2 separate regions of the Homo sapiens genome follow, and region 2 is linked to region 1. The links come from fine-mapping of genetic effects on gene expression. Tissue or cell type: blood mononuclear cells. Region 1 holds a variant in brackets; the other region holds the start of a gene. All regions are shown on one strand. Distances are from middle to middle. Region 1 overlaps LCP2 (lymphocyte cytosolic protein 2). Region 2 holds the start of LINC01187 (long intergenic non-protein coding RNA 1187).

Region 1 (4,400 bases):
AATAATCACATGTATAATTTTCAAAATCAAGAAAAACTATGTTAACTTAAAAAAATCTATTTAGATGGTGTCAAAGGAAAGTTCCCACTATTATTCACCTCTGTGGCATAATTTTAACGTAGGCTGCATTTTAAGTTGACACCACCTGGAAAAGGGGAAAAATTAGAATATTTGCTGGGGTGATTATTCAAATACTTGGCTCATTTCTTAACAAAATGGAGGTTTGGCTCTGTGAGGATGGCCAGATCGCCAAAGAAATTCTCTGTTAGGCCAAGGTTTAGATTCTCATGCCAGTCACTTTTTGAGTGCTAATCAGAACGGATGGAAAGAAACCCTCAGGGCTAGTTTTTCGCAAAGGAAACTAACAACTGAAGGTAACGCCCCAAACATACTCTAAGTTCAAAGTTCCAAGAGGAGGACCAGCTGAATCAAACATGTCCAGAATGAGAAACAGCTTACCCATAACTTCTGCTTCACATACTTCTGTTATGATAATGTTAATGAATAGAAAAAAAATGCATGCTTGTGATCAAATGTTTGAATCGCTGGTTGGCAGTGGATAGAGCTGCACAGACCCTATAGGAGCAGAGGTATTTGCCCTTCAAGATTTATCTTGGTCCAGTGTGGAAACACACAAGTGCAGACCAACCACTCATTGCAGCTCCCATGGAGGGAGGCACCTAGCAGATTAGTCTTAAAGGAAGTGCATTATCCTGTTAGGGTTCCTAGGTGAGTTGTGACCCACATCTAGAAAAATGAGTTAGGCTTTTCCCTCTCTAGCAAGCAATCAAGGCTGGGGCGATCCAGGCTATGGCTGCAAATATTGGTTGCTGAGCCTTTATGAGTGTGAAGGTGGCAGTGAGGACACAGCAGAGAGATCATGAAGGAACTCCTGTGCCATGCTGCAGATCCCACCTCTAGACACCATGAACCGTGTCTGACCTCCTGAGTCCTTATGTTTCCTAACACTATTAATGACTGGGGGTGAAATAGAGATGCAGAAACCAAAACCAAAACCAAAAACAGAGCAACCCGAGGCAAGAATATTGTAATAGTGACTATTTAAATGACCCCTTCATATGAAGTTAAAAATATATGCATTTCAAATTACATATATATATATATAGATATGTAGATATATATATATATATATACACACGCATGCACATATTTTATCTATTTTTTTTTGAGATGGAGTTTCCTTCTTGTTACCCAGGCTGGAGTGCGGCAATGGCGCAATCTCGGCTCACTGCAACCTCTGCCTCCCAGGTTCAAGCAATTCTCCTGCCTCAGCCTCCCAAGCAGCTGGGATTACAGGCGCACACCAGCACGCCCAGCTAATATTTTTCTATTTTCTAGTAGAGACAGGGTTTCACCATGTTGGTCAAGCTGGTCTCAAACTCCTGACCTCAGGTGATCCACCGGCCTTAGCCTCCCAAAGTGCTGGGATTACAGGGGTGAATTACTGCACCCGGCCCATATTTTATCTTTATCTATGGTTTGTTGGATGTTTATGAGGAATTTTTTCAAAGTTCTATAGCAGAAATCATTAAACTAATTGCCACATTTACATTTTTTCCCCCCACAATCCTCATCACTTGAAGAGGCAGCATATATTATGCAGATAAAAAAACTGAAAGTGAAGTTCCTGCTTTTCATTCCAATGTTGACTCATCTCCCTATCTTGACTCTTTCAGGACTTTCTGTCTGTGTCAGATATTATTGACTACTTCAGGAAAATGCCACTTCTGCTCATTGATGGGAAAAACCGAGGTTCCAGATACCAGTGCACATTAACGCATGCTGCAGGGTACCCATAGCAAGTT[AT/T]AGCCGAGCAAATGAACCGTCCTCCTGCCTCTGTTGCCAACACGAGATCAATCAGCCTTGGTCAATGGACAAACACTTAGGACTGAACTGAACCCCTCCCCATGAACACAAGGGTTTTATCCTTTCCTTTAAAAACAGTGTTTGAAATGAAGACTGTCAACTATCCCATAATTTATTTATTCTTCTTCAATGTTTGTAAAGTGCATGAGTCATGTTCACACTTGAAGTCTAGTAGTGCACTGTAATAATTCATTTTTTAAAAGATTATTTAATGCCCATTTCAAAATACAGTAGTTTACACAGCTACAGAAACAATTTGGGGCAAGTTTTAAAACACTGAAACAGTAATAGTTATTGGTGTCACATAAAACTGATTTGTTTTTTACAGCCAAACCTCTGTCAGTCAGAGGCATTCATTAGTTTTATACATGTAATTTGAAAATCACTAAACCTCGTTTTCTCAGCAGCAATAATTTAAGAGGCTTCAAAAATATAATTTCACTCTTATTTAGTATTTTTTCCTGGGGGCATTTTTACGTAATTTTTTTATGAAAAGACAAATGCATGTTGAGATAACTTCTGGGATTAAAATAGTCTTTTGCTTTACTTTTTTGGTTTCCTAAAACAACTTTATTGACTTTTAGTCCATACTGTTATATTTTTGTCTTAAAGAAAATTTAAACTACAAATACCAAAAGAAAACATTTTAAATTTAGGGATGAGACTTTGGTGTATCGTGGGTCTAGGTTTAATGAACACATCTGGGGTTAAGTTGGCATTTCTTCACATCTCCACACCCACACCAACCATCACAGCCCCCCACCAACCTTCTCCCAACCCCAAAAGCATTGTCCAGGGATATAGATTTTACCAAAGGCTTCCTGGGAAGACGAGGGAGCAACACTTTAGATTAAATGTGATCAGACTTTCCTATTAGATATGGCTCTTCTGTCTCTTGTTATCCCCCTGACAGCTCTGCCATAAAGTCCCTTCTCCTCATCCTTCCCAAACAGGCTGTATAAGTGCTTTGAGGTAATTAAACTCTTTCCTCCAGTTTACAAATATCACTTAACAAAAAATATAGGCATTCAGCCAGATTAAAAAACTGGTATTCAGCCAAATAGTGACAATCAGTTGTTCTTCAAGTTTTTCCCTTTGGGACCTTGGTTGTTATTGCACAACTTTTATTAGCAACAATTTTTGGCGTCTCTGCTTAATCTACAAGTTTTCGAAATGGAAAAGAGTATCTTGCAGCTTCATTTTCATGAGCTAATAAAAGGGGTATTGGAAGGAATCTAAGAAGTCACCATTTTAAAACTGATGATATGTTAAAATAAGGAGTATGCAGAAGGTAGAGACTTTTAACTGATGATAAAAATGGTGTTTCACAAAATCTCATCCTTAACAACCAGAAGTTCTCAGTTTAGGGTCCAAAACTTGGGAGTTTAAGGCTGAAAACCCTGCATTCATTTACACGTCTACACAACGGGCTATTCAGCAAGTATTTACTTAGTGGCTCTTCTGTGTTAAACAAGTGAGCTAGGTACAAGGTAGTAAGGATAGCATACACCATAGGTTCTAGTATCGAGTAAGCTCCACTTGTCTTGCTTTGCCGTATTCTATCTTTACAATTCAAAAATATCTAAAATGAAGGACCTGATAGATTTCAAAGCAACTATTTGGTAGCGAATCATGTTTATAAAACAAACCAAAGCTCATTTTAAGTCTATTAGTGGAAAGTGCCATCAGGATTAAGATGTTCTGTTCCATGGCTATGACTGAAATCAATGTTGGGAAGCTAATGTTTTCATGACTAGCATTCTCTCTCTGTTCAAGCACCGACAACTCCTTTTGGCTGGGCCTTGCCTCTTTTGGCCACAGACCTTCTATATGACCCCAGGTGCATCAGTCACAGTTGCTCAGAACCCTGCTCAGTGATAAACATCTTACTAAAGCTGGGTCAATCAGGGTCACTCTCTGGAATGTTAAACATGAAGCCTGAGACAAGATCTCTCTTTTATCTGGGGTCCCCAAAGGCAATGCTGTACACTTGGAGCTGCCTGCTGCCCTGCAACTACTCCCATTTACCAATTATCTGGAAGAACCAGTCTACAATAGAAGACAACGAGGCCAACACACAAAAACACAGTAAAAGTATGGACAAATTAGTGGGATCCCTGAAATCTATTCCAACTATGTGCTTCCAAGTCACATGACTCAATAAATGCTTCAGCTGGTTGAGTTGTGCTTGGCGTTCACTACCAGGAGAGTTCTGATTAATAAAAACTCATTCCATCAATTAATAATTTAGTAGCTCTCTTTCAACCTGAGCCAAATTCAAGCATAAGCTAAAGGATAAGCAGTGACCCATGGCCAATTTCCTATGTCATACACTTGCCATTAGTGACGTAAGTTAAGCCATTCTTCAAAACATTAAACAGCCTTCAAGAACATGAACTGCTTGTTTACATTATTTTTATTTTGTTTTAAATTATATATATACAAATTAGTAAACTCAACTCTCCCAAATATTTGTTAGTTCAACAATAAAACAGAAACTCATAACAAATAAG
Region 2 (4,400 bases), 49 kb after region 1:
CATGGAAACTCTGATGAGAGTGACTGCCCAAAACAGAGCTCTCCAGGGCTCAGCACCCTCCCTCCTGGAATGTGTCCCAAGGTCTTTCCAGGGCAAGTCGGGCCTCAGCTCAGTGTCACCTCTCCAAGGAAGGCTTCTCTGGGCTCTGCATTTGATGTTGACTTCCTTGTTTTAATGTCTGCTTAGCACTCTCTGGTCTGGCCTATCTGTTTATCTGATTCTTTTGTGTTTCCTCCATTATCTGTAAGCCCCAGATGTCAGGGAAGTTGCCTGTGTTACTCTCCACTGAATGCCCAGCCTAGGTCATGGTGGTCATCAATTTCATTGGTCACCAATATCTGTTGCTTCAATAAATGAGTCCTCTTCACCCTGTTTGCTCTGTGATAATGAAGCCCAGTGAAGGTCTTGAGCCCCATCATGACTTGAAGGGTGGATTGTGAGAGCTCAAGAGTATGTCTGTGGAGGATGCATTAGGACTGAGTTGGGGGGTCATGACATTTGATCCCTGAAAGCAAGAAAACAGCTTCCACTCTCGGATATGGTTTCCTCTTTTCTTTGATTGCAACTGGTTGTCATGATCCCTCCAGTCCATCTTGGGTGCAGAAACCCTGGGGATTGCCAAAGGCTCCTTTCTGAACCATCTTTTCAAACATGCGGGACATTCCCTGTCCAAGTGAGCTGCAAGGACAAAATAGAAATTTGTGGATGCAAAATGAGATTACTGATGTGGTTGCTGAAACTTATAAAACTCCCTCAGTGATAGGGGTTGTGGTGGCCTGTAAAGGGGATAATGATGACACCTTCAAGCTCTCCTTTTATACCACACAGCCGGTGGAGTCAGGACTTAGGTTCGAATCCAGTCAAGCTATATACATCTGTGTGACTTGGGCAGACACTTTTCCTCTTTTAAGTATCAGTTTCCTCACCTGTAAAATAGGAGTGATAAAACCTACCAAACCTGTGAGATGTCCCCATGACAGAGCACCCAGCACAGGCCACGTAAGGGCTTTCCTGATGTAAGCTTAAGCAGGACAGGCTCGGGCTCAGGACTGAGGCCTCTGGAGCCACCCTCCTACAGGCTGGGTGGCCATGGATAATGTGCTTCACCTCTCTGAAGTCTCGGTTTTCTCACCTGTAAATTGGCCGTAATAACACCTAGGGTATATTTCCTAGGGCTATTGGGAGAACCAGTTAGAATATATTTTTCACATAAAATGTCATTCAGGTAATTATGGCTGTTTAAAGCCTTATAAACTTAGATCTTGCCCTTGTAGACAGAAATGAAACAATTGCTGTGACTGGGTCTGATATCATAGCCAAACCCCTACACAAAACAACAGACTTATCATTCAAACAAATCAGTGAAAATAATTGGTCTTGTAAGTTGTCAATACCCTGTGCAACAAAAGCATTGGTGGAATGACCTTGAGCATTAAGGGGGAGTTGTAGGGATATCTTCTAGAGAAAAGATGGAGTTGTCACCTCCCATGTGCTCTGCTACATCTTCTCTTTAACTTTTCCCTTTGCCCAAAGCAACATGGACCATCTGTTTAATCAACCTCCACCACAACTCCATTCCCCAGTAAGCCAAGTCAGCAACTACTCAAATGCCTCATTCTAAGATGTGCTGATGGAGTGTGGCCTGCCTCAGAGGGTCTCTCCCTTCAAATAGGTCTATATTGTCTGGTTTGTTTGTGAACAGAGCCAGGTAGGTGCCGTGTGGCTCAGAGAGGTGGCTGGAAGTGACCTTCCATGACTCAATTCCACAGGTTTGTTTGCAAGAACACAGACACACGAGTGGCCACTGACAATATGTGTTCCAACATTATATACGGGGTATATTTTGCTCAGAAACATGCCCTGTTAGTTGTTGAAACCTTTTTTGCATTCCCTGAAACAAACGACACTATGGTGTATTTTCTTTTGGGGGGCAGTAAATAAAAGTCTTTTATGTTGACAATGATAATATTATATTCTACAATCTATTTGCATTTCTCTATCCTGTGGATTTTATTGCTTAGTATAAATCCCCAGGCTGAGGTGCATTAAGCTTCACTCAGAGAGAAACAATGCATTTTATCATAGGGCCGGACAGCTATATGCACAAGATGCTACCTGCAGAGATTGGTTTTTGCCCAGATGTGCAGGAGAGATGCACAGAGAGGAAGAAATGCATACATGTGTGCAGGTTTTGGCGTGTGCACAAGAAGCCTGGAAGGATTTTCTTTGGATCTACAGTCAAAATGGATTTCCGAGAGGAAGCTGTCTGAAAACACACCTCTTCCCTGTGCTACATACGGTCCCATCTCTGCCAGCCAGGTTGTCAGGAAAGTGATCAGCACTGGCTTCAACTCTGGCTAGAGCTCTTTGGCCAATGTGATGGGCAGAAAACTGGAATGAGGACAGAAAAGCACCTCAGAGGTTTGAAGAGTCTAGTCTCTCACCACCTTGCTGTAGGTTTTCTGAATACTTCTGAGTTTAGGAGCATTTTTTCTCAACAGGCAAGTCAGGAGCTGCTAAGATAAACCATGGCAGTAAGCTCGAGCCAGTGTTCGTATTTGCCATTGATCGGCCACCAAGTGCTTGCTATGTGCCATGCATTGTGCTAAGCACTATCTCATTTAATATTTACAGCAATCTTATGAGGTAGATGCTACTGTTATCTCCATTTTACAGATGGGGAAACTGAGGCACAGAGTTCCACAGCTGGTAACTTGAGGAATAGGAATTCAACCACTGGAGAGTCTGGCTGGAGTTTTTTGTGGTAGGAGAAAATATGCTGTCTAAATTTGCCTTGGGAAACCATCATGGTGGTCACAAAACCACTTCTACGGCTTGCCTTGACCTAGCAGGAATGAAGATGTAAAGAAAGAATGAGCGCGTCATGGTTATGATGGGATGATGATGTCTGTTGTGTTGTTTGGTGTCAGTTTCTGTAACGCCTTTCTATTTCAATCAAGGCTATTATCTTTTCCTCTGTTTTAGTGAAGTTTCCTTGAAGTAGAAAATGGGAGTGTATTGGGCATCTCAGAGTTTTCAGCTGAACTGAAGGGTCTGATGGTAACTTTACCCCCAAATCTCTGAGAGAAAAGCAGGGAGTCCCTGCTTCAGCTCTGCTCAGAAGAGCCTCCCTCACATGGTGGTTTCTGTGTCACTAGACTGGTTAACCAAATGGTTCTTCTAAATACCCAACTTTTAATAGAAACTCCTGCGGCTTGGATTATTAAAGTCCTAACATGCTTATTTAATCGTGTTTCAAGTCCATCTATCTTTTTTGAGTCTAAGGAAGACTCACTAGGTCAGAAGGAGTAGAGGGAAGAGGATTAATACATGATTTTCTTTTTCCCCTTTTTCTTTTAACTTAGGCTGAGACTTATTTGAATGCCTGTTTCATATGGAGCTTTTAAGTGTAACAGTTGTGAGTGAAATTGCCCCTTTTCAAGGTAATTGAATTCCATTTTTCACTTTCCATTTCCCTCTAGAAAAATCAAAACGTTTTCAGAGCTTGGCTTCTTAGTGGGTGATTTTCTAAGGTGGGAACTTTAGAACCATAAAACATTCTAGTGTGGCAAAGGCATTCAGGAACCGGATGACCAGGCCCCTTCTCCGCAGGTGAACAGCCTCCACCAGCCGGTCTTGGAGAACATATTGATTTCACTGTGTTTTTATTTGAAACACCAAAGGAATGCCCATATCTTGTCCTTGGGCCAGGGCTGTGGGTTAGGGGAGCTGGGTTTCTGTCCAGAATCTTGTCATCTGTAGGGCAGCTGAGGGGCATTATTACCCAGAGGTCCCTGGAAACCTGTGCTAAATTGGTTTGGATCAGTGTCCGTGAAAATGTTGGACAAAGGAGAGTCGATTTTAGCTGACACCTGGACACGACTTTAAATAACACTGTATCACGGAGCAACACAATGTCCTCCCAACTCTTTTTCGGTCTTTCCGATTATGTTAGGGACAAAGTCTCAGTTTGGTGCTGTTGTGGTCGAACTATCTTCTCATCTCTGTTTTTTAAAGTCAGGCAGATCAAGCCTTACTCCTAGGGCTTTAGAAGGTAATAGTTTCTGATTTGGATTTAATCACATTGTTTTATTTCCTTTTTAACATTTTTATGACAACTTTTGCTTTATAGCAGTTTTAAAGGTAGGAAAAAATTTTCGTTTGAAAACAAGTTGGTTTGAGATGTTTTTCACTCTTACATAAAAGACCCACCTTCACAGCGTATGAGCTTCTAAAGTTGGGGAAGCAGTGGCTTAGGTGGGCAGGCAGGAAATTCAAGCAGGTTGGTTTCTGCCAAAGTCAGAGATGATTGCCACTTACTGGAAGGCTGTGTTGGAACAGAGTGGGCACAGGCATTGGGAGCAGAGCTGATTTCCAATCTTCCTGCTGCCCTCGCTGCC

The links.
Region 2: it holds the start of LINC01187, and the variant in region 1 is fine-mapped to the expression of LINC01187 in blood mononuclear cells (TOPMed, PIP above 0.99). The same link has a PIP of 0.9 or more in T cells.

What each region holds. Positions count from the first base shown.
Region 1 is chr5:170,246,117-170,250,516 of GRCh38, reverse strand. LCP2 (lymphocyte cytosolic protein 2) reads left to right here. Exons shown (of 21, transcript NM_005565.5): 21 at 1,698-4,284. The coding sequence ends at 1,820. It overlaps C5orf58 (chromosome 5 open reading frame 58), which reads right to left. Exons shown (of 4, transcript NM_001102609.3): 4 at 4,286-4,400. Among named protein-coding and RNA genes, the nearest start is that of C5orf58, 15 kb to the right of the region's middle. The variant AT/T (reference allele first, on the strand shown) is at 1,827.
Region 2 is chr5:170,196,795-170,201,194 of GRCh38, reverse strand. It overlaps LINC01187 (long intergenic non-protein coding RNA 1187), which reads left to right and starts at 2,054. Exons shown (of 5, transcript NR_108022.1): 1 at 2,054-2,453; 2 at 3,366-3,443.